Linked DNA regions of Homo sapiens: all the other regions are linked to region 2. The links come from fine-mapping of genetic effects on gene expression. A gene starts in region 2. Each other region holds a variant in brackets. All regions are shown on one strand. Distances are between the middles of the regions.

The links. PIP is the estimated chance that this variant, and not a neighbour inherited with it, causes the effect. A credible set is the group of variants that fine-mapping cannot tell apart.
Region 1: its variant is the best candidate, but not a certain one, in a credible set for the expression of GUSB in monocytes after LPS (Fairfax 2014, PIP 0.59).
Region 3: its variant is the best candidate, but not a certain one, in a credible set for the expression of GUSB in thyroid (GTEx, PIP 0.53).

The regions. Positions count from the first base shown.
Region 1 is chr7:65,847,214-65,851,452 of GRCh38, reverse strand. No RefSeq gene overlaps it. Among named protein-coding and RNA genes, the nearest start is that of LINC03129, 9.6 kb to the right of the region's middle. The variant G/TTG (reference allele first, on the strand shown) is at 1,743.
Region 2 is chr7:65,980,484-65,984,701 of GRCh38, reverse strand. It overlaps GUSB (glucuronidase beta), which reads left to right and starts at 2,489. Exons shown (of 12, transcript NM_000181.4): 1 at 2,489-2,728. The coding sequence starts at 2,519. RefSeq lists enhancers at 2,314-2,443, 3,900-4,218.
Region 3 is chr7:65,719,116-65,723,354 of GRCh38, reverse strand. All of the region lies in intron 3 of LINC03006 (long intergenic non-protein coding RNA 3006), which reads left to right. Among named protein-coding and RNA genes, the nearest start is that of SNORA22, 34 kb to the left of the region's middle. The variant C/G (reference allele first, on the strand shown) is at 2,331.

The DNA.
Region 1 (4,239 bases), 130 kb after region 2:
CATCTCTACTAAAAATACAAAATTCGCCAGGTGTGGTGGTGCATGCCTGTAGTACCAGCTATTTGGGAGGCTGAGGCAGGAGAATTGCTTGAACCCAGGAGGCAGAGGCTGGTGAACCGAGATCGTGCCACTGCACTCCAGCCTGGGCAACAAGAGCGAAATTCTGTCTCAAAAAAAAAAAGTTGTTTTTACAGAGACAGGGGTCTCTGTATGTTGCCCACGCTGGTCTGAAACTGCTACCCTCAAGTGATCCTCCCTCTTCAGCCTCCCAAAGTGCTGGAATTACAGGCATAAATCACCATGCCCAGCCTTATTCTTTTTTAATTAGCTCAGTTTCAATTTCCTATTATAAAAATACCATCAAATAGAAAATGTCAATGTTAAGTAGGCTTTCCATGTAAAGGTGGCAAATCACAAAATCTCCCTTCCTTGATACTTATTCATTCATTTTTTTTTTTTGAGATGGAATCTCACTCTGTCACCCAGGCTGGGGTGTAGTGGCACAATCTTGGCCCACTGCAACCTCTGCCTCCCAAATTCAAGTGGTTCTCCTGCCTCAGCCTCCCAAGTAGCTGGGATTACAGGTGTGCACCACCATGCCCAGCTAACTTTTGTATTTTTAGCAGAGACAAGGTTTCACCATGTTGGCCAGGCTGGTCTCGAACTTCTGACCTGAGGTGATTCACCTGCCTTGGCCTCCCAAAGTGCTGGGATTACAGGCATGAGCCACCGCGCCTGACCCCTTGATACTTACTCATTCTAATGACATTTGTTGTGTGCCTACTATGTGCCAAGTACTATATTAGGTTCTGAGAATGAACAAGATGGGACTCCTGCCACAAGGAGCCTCTGTTCTGATTTGCCGTGAGTTTGGGAGGAGGATATGCAGACAAGCAGTTCAATAAATAACAAGCTGATTTTTTAGTGTGGTATCTGCTTTGAGAGAACCAGGCAGGACGAGGCAATGAAAAGGACGATGATTTTCTCTTCACAGGATGAGGGAGGATTTCTCGAGAGATGATGTGCGAGCTGAGGTCTGAAACATGAGAAAAATCCAGCTATGGCAGGAGGTATGGGAAGTCCATTTCGGGCAGGGGAGAGCATGTGCAAAGGTCCTGAAGAGGGAAACCACTTGGCATTCATTTACAGGAGCAGAAAAGAAGCCCAGATGCCTGATGCACACTGAGCAAGAGGAAAGGAATAGAGGGTGGCAGACAGGGTCCGATCATGCTAGGATTGGTTTGGTTTTTAAGAGACATGGTCTCACTCTGTCACCCAGGCTGGAGTGCAGTGGGGCAATCATAGCTCACTGCAGCCTCAACCTCCTGGGTTCAAGAGATCCTGTCACCTCAGCCTCCCAAGTAGCTGGGACTATAGGCCTGAGCCCCACCATGCCTGGCTAAGTTTTTTTATTGTTATTAGAGATGACAGTCTTGCTATGTTGCCTAGGTGGGTCTCAAACTCCTGGACTCAAGTGATCCTCCCATCCTGGCCTATAAAAGCACTGGAATTACAGGTGTGGGACACCACATCTGGCCAAGATTGGGGGTTTAAAAAATGCTTTACTTTTAATTTTTGTGGATACACAGTAGGTGTATATATTTATGGGGTGCATGAGACGTTTTGACACAGCATGTAATGTGTAATAATCACATCAGGGTGAATGGGATGCCCATCACCTCAAGCATTTGTCCTTTCTTTGTTTTACAATCTCCAATTATGCTTTTTTTTTTTTTTTTTTT[G/TTG]AGACAAAGTCCAGCTCTGTCATCGGGGCTGGAGTGCAGTAGCACAATCTTGGCTAACTGCAACCTCTGCCCCCTCAGTTCAAGTGATTCCCCTGCCTCAGCCTCCTGAGTAGCTGGGACTACAGGCGTGCACCACCACGCCCCGCTAATTTTTGTATTTTTAGTAGAGGTGGGGTTTCTCCATGTTGGCCAGGCTGGTCTTGAACTTCTGACCTCAGGTGATCAGCCCCCCTTGGCCTCCCAAAGTGCTGGGATTACAGGCATAAGCCACCACACCTGGCCTATTTAAGCTATTTTTAAATATACAATAAATTATTGTTTACTATAGTCATGCTGTTGTACTGCCAAATACTACATCTTATTCATTCTAACTGTATTTTTGTACCCATTAATCATTCCTGTGCACCCCCTCCAGCCCACTACCCTTCCCAGCCTCTGGTAACCATCATTCTGTTCTCTATCTTCATAAGTTCAATTATTTTAATTCTTAGCACCCACAAATGACTGAGAACATGCAAAATTTGTCTTTCTGTGTCTGGCTTATTTTAGTTAACATAATGATCTCCAGTTCTACTCATGTTGTTGCAAATAACAGGATTATATTCTTTCTCATGGCTGAATAATATTCCATTGTGTATATATACCACATTTTTTCTATCCATTCACCTGTTGATGGACACTTAAATTGCTTCCAAATCTTGGCTATTGTGAATAGTGTTGTAATAAATATAGAAATGCAGATATTTCTTCAATATACTGATTTTCTTCCTTTTGGGTATATATCCAGCAGTAAGATTATTGCATCATAAAGTAACTCTATTTTTCATTTTTTGAGGACCCTCCAAACCGTTCTCCATAGTGGTTGTACTAATTTACGTTCCCATCAACAGTGTATCAGGGTTCCCTTTTCTCCACATCCTCAATAGCATTTGGTATCGCCTGTCTTTTGGATATAAGCCATTTTAACTGGGGTAGGATGATAGCTCATTATAGTTTTGATTTGCATTTCTCTGATGATCGATGATGTTGAGCACCTTTTTATATACCTGTTTGCAATTTGTATGTCTTCTTTTGAGAAATATTTATTCTGATCTTTTGCCCATTTTAAAATCAGATTATTATATTTTTTCCCATTTATTTTTTTTCCACCTGAGCTCTTTATGTACTCTAGTTATTAATCCCTTGTCAGATGGATTCAGAATTGGGTTTTGACTTTTACACTCAATTCTAAATCATTAAATGCTGTCAAGTGGAGAACTGACATAATATTCGTATTGGAAGACCACTTTGTGTATCAGCTATCTATTGCTGTGTAACAAACCACTCCAAGCGTAATGGTATAAAGTTACAATGATGCTTATTAGTCTTCTCACAATACTGAAGGCTGACTAGACTCACCTAGGCAGTTCTGGCTTAGGATGTCTTATGTGGTTGCCTTCAAACAGTATGCAGTTAGAATAGTCTCAATGGTTTCCTTGCTCAAATATCTCCTGGTTAATGTGGGCTGTTAGCTAGGGCCTCAGCTGGGGCTATCTGGTGGAACACCCACACATCACCTCCATATGTGGCCTGGGCTTTCTCACAAAATGGTGAATGGGTTCTAAGTGCACCCATCCCAGGAAGGACAGCCAAGTGGAAACATCTTTTATGACCTAACTTTGGCAGATCACGAGCAACACTTCCATTGTATTCTACTTATAGAAGCAGGGGACTAAGTTCATATTCAAGGGAAGATTAACTAGATTTTTTATTTTTTTTGAGACAGAGTCTTGCTCTGTCACCCAGGCTGGAGTGCAGTGGCCCGATCTCAGCTCACTGCAACCTCCACCACTCAGGTTCAAGTGATTCTGCTGCCTCAGCCTCCTGAGTAGCTGGGACTACAGGCACAAGCCACCACGGCCAGCTAATTTTTGTATGTTTAGTAGAGATGGGGTTTCACCATGTTGGCGAGGATGGTCTCAATCTCCTGACTTCGTGATCCACCCACCTCGGCCTCCCAAAGTGCTGGGATTACAGGCGTAAGCCGCCACACCCAGCCTGAAACCAGATTCTATCTCTTGATGACAAGTGTAAAAAAATTTGTAGACGGCCGGGCGCGGTGGCTCACGCCTGTAATCCCAGCACTTTGGGAGGCCGAGGCGGGCGGATCACAAGGTCAGGAGATCGAGACCATCCCGGCTAAAACGGTGAAACCCCGTCTCTACTAAAACTACAAAAAATAGCCGGGCGTAGTGGCGGGCGCCTGTAGTCCTAGCTACTTGGGAGGCTGAGGCAGGAGAATGGCGTGAACCCGGGAGGCGGAGCTTGCAGTGAGCCGAGATCCCGCCACTGCACTCCAGCCTGGGCGACAGAGCGAGACTCCGTCTCAAAAAAAAAAAAAAAAAAAAAAAAAAAAAATTTGTAGACAACTATTCTTAACAGTGAAGAGATGGAATCAACCTATGTTTCTTTCCATCAATGGAAAAAAGAATAAAGGAAATGTGGCGGCCGGGCGCAG
Region 2 (4,218 bases):
GGCCTTGTCAGTTCCCAGAATGTACTTATTTTCACTATGCTGGGGACTCCATTTCCAGTATTGAGGTCCATTTTCAGAAGGTGGATTTGGTGAGCATGAAAAAAGGGGGTGGGGGAGTAATCATACAAACAATTGTGTCCAGGCCAGCTTCCTAGGACATGAGGGCTCCCTCTGTATGGCAGAGGCACCTGACATCCGTAACTGTTGTGCACCCTGCGAATGACTTTATGGTCTAAGAATGTATGTTCAGAGCCCCAGCTAAGGAATCAGGAGTGGCAAGATCCTGGAAGGATGCCAATCTATGAAACCCTGAGTCAAGAGGTCAAGCTGGGCACTTGTTTTCCTTTTTCTTTTTTTTTGTAGGAGTTTCACTCTTGTTGCCCAGGCTGGAGTACAATGGCGTGATCTCGGCTCACTGCAATCTCTGGTTCAGGCGATTCTCTCACCTCAGCCTTCCCGAGTAGCTGGGATTACAGACATGTGCCACCATGCCCAGCTAAATATGGAGATGCGGTTTCTCCATATTGGTCAGGCTGGTCTCGAACTCCCAACCTCAGGTGATCTGCCTGCTTCAGCCTCCCAAAGTGCTGGGATGACAGGCGTGAGCCACCGCACCTGGCCAAGGCACTTGGTTTCTTAGATCACCCACTTGGCCCTCTTCCAAGTTGTACTTTCCTTCTTTCCTTCCTGTTCTAAAGTTTTTTAATATTTTTTTTTTTCCTGAAATGGCATCTCACTCTGTAGCCCAGGCTGGAGTGCGGTGGCGTGATCTCAGCTCACTGCAACCTCTGCCTCCTGGGTTAAAGCATTTCTCCTGCCTCAGCCTCCCAAATAGTAGGGATTACAGGTGCCTGCCACCACGCCTGGCTAATTTTTGTATTTTTAGTAGAGATGGGGTTTCTCCACGTTGGCCAGGTTGGTCTCAAACTCCTGATATCAAGTGATCCTCCCGCCTTGGCCTCCCAAAGTGCTGGAGTTTGGAGTTACAGGCCTGAACCTCTGTGCCTGGCCTGCTTTTTTTTTTAGACTGAGTCTTGCTCTCTCGCCAGGCTGTAGTGCTGTGGTGCGATCTCGGCTGACTGCAACCTCTGCCTCCCGCGTTCAATCGATTCTCCTGCCTCAGCCTCCCGAGTAGCTGGGACTACGGGCGCATGCCACCATGCCCAGCTAATTTTTTAGTAGAGATGGGGTTTCATCATATTGGCCAGGCTGGTCTCAAACCCCTGACCTCGTGATCCCCCCACCTCCGCCTCCCAAAGTGCTGGGATTACAGGTGTGAGCCACTACGCTCAGCACTGGCCTGCTTTTTAACAAGCTTTTACTACTGCTCTGCAGCTTACCTCCCTCTGGCTTTCTGCCTTATGCCCCTCAGTGCAATTCTTTCTTCTGAGGAGGCAAGAATTGAGGTTGTTGCTGATGTGTAGGGATTCACCACCCGGAACTCCACCAGTAACAGGTCGAGGATGCTAGTTGAAAATGTTATGTAAGCTGCATGCTTTTTACAAATGGTAGTGGTTCTCATGTCCAGCAATGGCCACTGCACCGTCCCTGTATGAAAGTCCCCTCCATAAATCTATGTCTCCTTTGCTGTCTCCAGATCTCCTCCTCTACCTCTCCCACACGGTGCCTTCCCTACTGGAGTAAACTGGGGTCCCGCAGGGCACCCTTTCCCTGCAATTTTTTTTTTTTTTTTGAGACAGAGTCTCGCTCTGTTGCCCAGGCTGGAGTGCAGTGGTGCGATCTCGGCTTACTGCAGCCTTTGCCTCCCGGGTTCAAGCGATTCTCCTACCTCAGCTTCCTGAGTAGCTGGGATTACAGGCACGCACCATCACGCCCCGCTAATTCTTTTTTTTTTTTTTGTATGTTTACAAAATAGGGACGGGGTTTCACTATCGTTGGCCAGGCTGGTCTCGAACTCCTGGCCTCAAGTGATCTGCCCCCCTCGGGTTCCCAAAGTGCACCTGGCCTCTCTCCCTGCATCTTTATGTGCCTGCAACACCAAGAGGGAGCTCTTGGCCCCTGGGTTAAGGTCAGGGCTCCAGAAGCCCAGGGTCAAGGCTATGGCCGCATCCCAAGGACGTGCATCCCTGCAAGAGGCTGCATCAGACAGGCATGGAAGAGGCGCCGCTGGGGCCTCCTTGAATTCCTGCTGGGAAAAGCAAGTGGAGGTGCTCCTTGAAGAAACAGGGGGATCCCACCGATCTCAGGGGTTCTGTTCTGGCCTGCGGCCCTGGATCGTCCAGCCTGGGTCGGGGTGGGGAGCAGACCTCGCCCTTATCGGCTGGGGCTGAGGGTGAGGGTCCCGTTTCCCCAAAGGCCTAGCCTGGGGTTCCAGCCACAAGCCCTACCGGGCAGCGCCCGGCCCCGCCCCTCCAGGCCTGGCACTCGTCCTCAACCAAGATGGCGCGGATGGCTTCAGGCGCATCACGACACCGGCGCGTCACGCGACCCGCCCTACGGGCACCTCCCGCGCTTTTCTTAGCGCCGCAGACGGTGGCCGAGCGGGGGACCGGGAAGCATGGCCCGGGGGTCGGCGGTTGCCTGGGCGGCGCTCGGGCCGTTGTTGTGGGGCTGCGCGCTGGGGCTGCAGGGCGGGATGCTGTACCCCCAGGAGAGCCCGTCGCGGGAGTGCAAGGAGCTGGACGGCCTCTGGAGCTTCCGCGCCGACTTCTCTGACAACCGACGCCGGGGCTTCGAGGAGCAGTGGTACCGGCGGCCGCTGTGGGAGGTGCGATCTCGGGGCAGGGCCGGGAGGCGCCCGAAAGCCCGGCGGTGGGAGTAGGGGAGCCCGGGCCCCCCGCAGACTTCTTCCCCTGGGCGTCTCCGAGCTGGGGCCCGCAGGAGGTTAAAGGTCAACGGGCTTGGGGGCGCCGGCTTGGGGGACGGGGGAACAGGAGCACCCTGGAGGGCCGGGGCGGATTAGGCAGGAGGAGAAAAGGCTCTTGCCGAGCCCTTTCCCGAGGTAAAGGCTGAGTCTGTGCAGTATCCTTCCTTTCAATATTTATTTTTAATTTTTAAAAATTTTTTTGAGACTGGGTTTGCACCTGTTTCCCAGGCTGGGGCGGAGTGGCGCCAGCCTAACTTCTGAGCTCAAGCGATTCTCCCGCCCCAGCCTTGCAATTTAGGGGGTGCCAACACGCCTGGCTAATTGAAAAAAAAAAAATTATCTGGGCTCGGTGGCTCACACCTGTAATCCCAGCACTTTGGGAGGTGGAGGCGGGCGAATCGCCTGAGGCCAGGAGTTTGAGACCAGGCTGGCCAACATAACAGGGTGAAACCTCATCTCTACTAAAAATATAAAAATTAGCCAAGTGTGGTGGTTCATGCCTGTAATCCCAGCTACTTGGGAGGCTGAGTCAGGAGAATTGCTTGAACCCGGGAGTAGAGGTTGCAGTGAGCTGAGATCAGGATGCCACTGCACTCCAACTTGGGCGACATAGTGAGACTACGTCTCCAAAAAAAAAAAAAAGGCAAAAAAACTTAAAAAAAAAAAAAAGATACAGGGTGTCACTATTTACCCAGGGTGGTCTCGAACTCCTGGCCTCAAGCCATCCTCCCACGTTGACCTCCCAAAGCGCTGATTACTGGCATGAGCCACCCACACACTCTGGCCACAGCGGCATGCACTGCACAGAGCTGGGCCCGGGGATCGGGAGAAGGTGACAGTTTAGATGTCCTGAGGTCAGCTCTGCCGAGGCAGGAAGTCCCTTGGTTTTCAAGGTTCACATAGAGGACAGGACATGACATCAGGCCCAGGACGCCACCCCTGTTCCCCTCCTGACTTGGATGTGATCTGCAGAGAAGTGGAACTGGGTGAGGTCTGGGCGGCTTTTGCCTGGTCTACATCCTCTTATTCTGACTTTGCAGCATTCAGTACAGGAGGGAAAGAGGAGGGGGCTGGGTGCCAGTGTGCACCCCACTCACAGTGTCCTAAGCAAAGCTCCCCCCATTCCTCCAACCAGCCTTCCTCCCTGTGACAGGCAGTGGCCATCTGCCTCTTAGTCACAGGTCTGAACCTTCTTGCCTCTGGCTGGGATGTGGCCCTGGGCTTGCTCCTGTCTCAGGAGATATTGTGCCCCATCCACTCTGAGGAGGAACTCCTGGCCCCACTGGCCCAGGTGCACAGATCGCCCTGGCAGTTGACCTGTCATCAGCAAGTTATCTGTCCTTTCTGCCAAGAATCCCCGCTATGTGTCAGGGCTTGTGCTAGGCCTGGGG
Region 3 (4,239 bases), 260 kb after region 2:
ATAGACCCTACCTTAGATTCTACAGTACGTGGGGTATAGGAGAAAAAAGAGTCCCTGCACCAGACGGTGCCGGGGGATGTGGGGTCCTGAGGGGCCAGTGGGGTTGGAGAGAGGGGACCCTCCTGCAAGAGGCTGAGTGGTGGCTCCAGAGCCGATGATGTCATCAGAGGAGCTGGGGCAGGATGGGGAGTGGGGAGGAGGGTCCAGTCATATTAGGCAATGCACAGATCTGGGGGGAGGCCTATAGCACAGAGGCTCTGTCCTTTGAGGGTGACTGAACCAACAGGGGAAAGCGAGGCATGGTGAAAATAGCCATGGATGGCCAGCTGTGGTGGCTCACACCTGTAATCCCAGCACTTTGAAAGGCTGAGGAGGATGGATCACCGGAGGTCAGGGGTTCAAGACCAGCCTGGCCAACATGGGGAAGCCCCGTCTCTACTAAAAATACAAAATTAGCCAGGCTTGATGGTGGGCACCTGTAATCCCAGCTGCTTGGGAGGCTGAGGCAGGAGAATTGCTTGAACCCAGGAGGCAGAGGTTGCAGCGAGCTGAGATCACATCACTGCACTCCAGCCTGGGCAACAAGAGCGAAACTCTGTCGGGAAGGGGAGAGGAGGGGAGGGGAGGGGAGAAGGAAGGAAGGATCGAAAGAAAGACAAAGAAGGAAGGGAGAGAGAGAGGGGGAAAGAAAGAAAGAAAAGAGAAAGAAAGAAAAAAAAAGGAAGGAAGGAACGAAGGAAAAAGGGAAGGAGGAAGGAAGGAAGGAAAGAAAGAAAGAAAAGGTAAGAAAGAAAACCGTGGATGACCGCAGACGGCCACAGGTGACATTTCAAGCTGTGAATTTGGAGAGAGAGGGCGCTCCAGGCAACTGTGGGGTGACTGCTCCCCCTGGTGGCCATATATGGCTAAAGCAAGTAGAAGTCCAGACACACCTGGAGAACAGGTGCCATCGCCTGAAAGCAACCGTAACCACGACAACAAGGCCAGGTGCAGAACCCAGGTCTCCCCCCTTTATTAGAACCTGTGGAGAGATCATGAATGTATTCTCCGATATGTTTATTTTCAGGGGTTAAAAAAAAAATCTCCCCAGTGTCACTTCTCCCAGGAACGTGTGTATGTGAATGGCTTAAAAACTGTTGCCCTTGACAAAGAAATGTACCAATCTCCAATGACAGAATATTTAATCGAGGAAAGGTCTCATTAACAGATGTTAATTAATCTCCTTAACAGATGTTAAGGAGAACTGCAAACCACTGTTCAATGAAATAAAAGAGAATACAAACAAATGGAACAACATTCCACGCTCATGGGTTGGAAGAATCAATATCGTGAAAATGGCCATACTGCCCAAGGTAATTTATAGATTCAATGCCATCCCCATCAAGCTACCAATGACTTTCTTCACAGAATTGGAAAAAACTACTTTAAAGTTCATATGGAACAAAAAAGAGCCCGCATCGCCAAGTCAATCCTAAGCCAAAAGAACAAAGCCAGAGGCATCATGCTACCTGACTTCAAACTATACTACAAGGCTACAATAACCAAAACAGCATGGTACTGGTACCAAAACAGAGATATAGATCAATGGAACAGAACAGAGTCCTCAGAAATAACACCACATATCTACAACCATCTGATCTTTGACAAACCTGACAAAAACAAGCAGTGGGGAAAGGATTCCCTATTTAATAAATGGTGCTGGGAAAACTGGCTAGTCATATGTAGAAAGCTGAAACTGGATCCCTTCCTTACACCTTAGACAAAAATTAATTCAAGATGGATTAAAGACTTACATGTTAGAACTAAAACCATAAAAACCCTAGAAGAAAACCTAGGCAATACCATTCAGGACATAGGCATGGGCAAGGACTTCATGTCTAAAACACCAAAAGCAATGGCAACAAAAGCCAAAATTGACAAACGGGATCTAACTAAACTAAAGAGCTTCTGCACAGCAAAAGAAACTACCATCAGACTGAACAGGCAACCTACAAAATGGGAGAAAATTTTCGCAACCTACTCATCCAACAAAGGGCAAATATCCAGAATCTACAATGAACTCAAATAAATTTACAAGAAAAAAACAAACAACCCCATCAAAAAGTGGGCGGAGGATATGAACAGACACTTCTCAAAAGAAGACATTTATGCAGCCAAAAAACACATGAAAAAATGCTCATCATCACTGGCCATCAGAGAAATGCAAATCAAAACCACAATGAGATACCATCTCACACCAGTTAGAATGGCGATCATTAAAAAGTCAGGAAACAACAGGTGCTAGAGAGGATGTGGAGAAATAGGAACACTTTTACACTGTTGTTGGGACT[C/G]TAAACTAGTTCAACCATTGTGGAAGTCAGTGTGGCGATTCCTCAGGGATCTAGAACTAGAAATACCATTTGACCCAGCCATCCCATTACTGGGTATATACCCAAAGGACTATAAATCATGCTGCTATAAAGACACATGCACACGTATGTTTATTGCGGCACCATTCACAATAGCAAAGACTTGGAACCAACCCAAATGCCCAACAACGATAGACTGGATTAAGAAAATGTGGCACTTATACACCATGGAATACTATGCAGCCATAAAACATGATGAAACTGGAAACCATCATTCTCAGCAAACTATCACAAGGACAAAAAACCAAACACCGCATGTTCTCACTCATAGGTGGGAATTGAACAATGAGAACACATGGACACAGGAAGGGGAACATCACACCCCGGGGACTGTTGTGGGGTGGGGGGAGGGGGGAGGGATAGCATTTGGAGATATACCCAATGCTAAGTGACAAGTTAATGGGTGCAGCACACCAACATGGCACATGTATACATATGTAACAAACCTGCACATTGTACACATGTACCCTAAAACTTAAAGTATAATAATAATAAAATAAAATAAAATAAATAGTTAATGAATGGAGTTCTGCAGGCTTTGCTTTAAAGAACAGATCTACAGTATTTTATTGGGGAATGTAATCTCAGTGTCATCTCTGAGGCATGTTTACTGCTATATCTCTATCGAGCACCTGAAGTAAGTAGTGCCTGGAACAGAGGAATGACTCAGGGTGTGGTGACTGGACTGGATGGCACTTTCAAAGCACTGGACCTGTCCCACGATGGGGCAGTGAGTTTCCCGTCCCTCTACCTATAAGGTACCTAAAAGGTTTAGCCTTGCGTGTGGTAGATGTGCTTTGAAGGGGGTTTAGGAGACAGTCTAGGAGATGACCCTTAAGTAACCTGCCTACAATCTCCTTTACACTCAGGTGATCAGTGAAGTTTTTTTTCAGGGACAATGTAAAACAGTAGTTCTGCTGGTATCACTGACTACGTATTAGAATCACCTATGAACTCTTAAACACTAGTGCCCATAGGCCCTATTCTCAGGATTTTGATTTAATTAATGTAGGCTGACACCTATTCATCTGTTCTTAATGCTTTCTGAGTAATCCTAAAGTGCAGTGAAGGTGGACAACCACTAATGTGGAAAAAAACAAAACAAAACAAAAACACTCCAATATGCAATACAACTTCACAGCTAGCTCAGAACTAGTTCTCTGCAGGTCTCATAATTTATAATAATTTCTGCTTGGAAGCCAGAAGGCCCGTTCCTTTATTGTCACCATAGCCGAAAAGCGTAATCTTCAAGGCCTGATTCATCCTTACCTCCTCCAGGAAGCCTTCTCTGCCTGTTCCAGCCTATTTTTCTGTCCCCTTATTGTACTTCCTGCCAGTGCTTGCATCCCTGCTTTGACTCATATCCCTTTGGCCCTTCTCTCATATCCCTTGTGCCCTTCTCCTTTCCTTTCCTGAGCCTCCACCACACTCCAAATTGAATACTCTAAAAGGTTTAGCCCTGCATGTGGTAGAGGTGCTTTGAAAGGGTTTTTTAGGAGACAGTCTAGGAGATGACCCATCCTGTGCATGTCTACTCACCAAACCCTGTTTTATAATTGCCTGCCCATTTGTATGTCTCTGAATGAAACTGTGTACACCCCGAGAGGAAGAACTGTGATATATTTACCTTGGCAACCACAGCACTTAGTGCATGCAATAGAGTAAACACAATTGCACAAATGGATGGAAGGAAGGATGAATGAGTGGACAGATGGATGAATGAAGGAGTAGTACTCTTTGTGGGGCTTAACTGCACTGTCTGAATTGATTAGTGTCTCTACTACATTTCTCATGTGTCTCTATTACATCTATGTAACTTGGGAAAGAATAT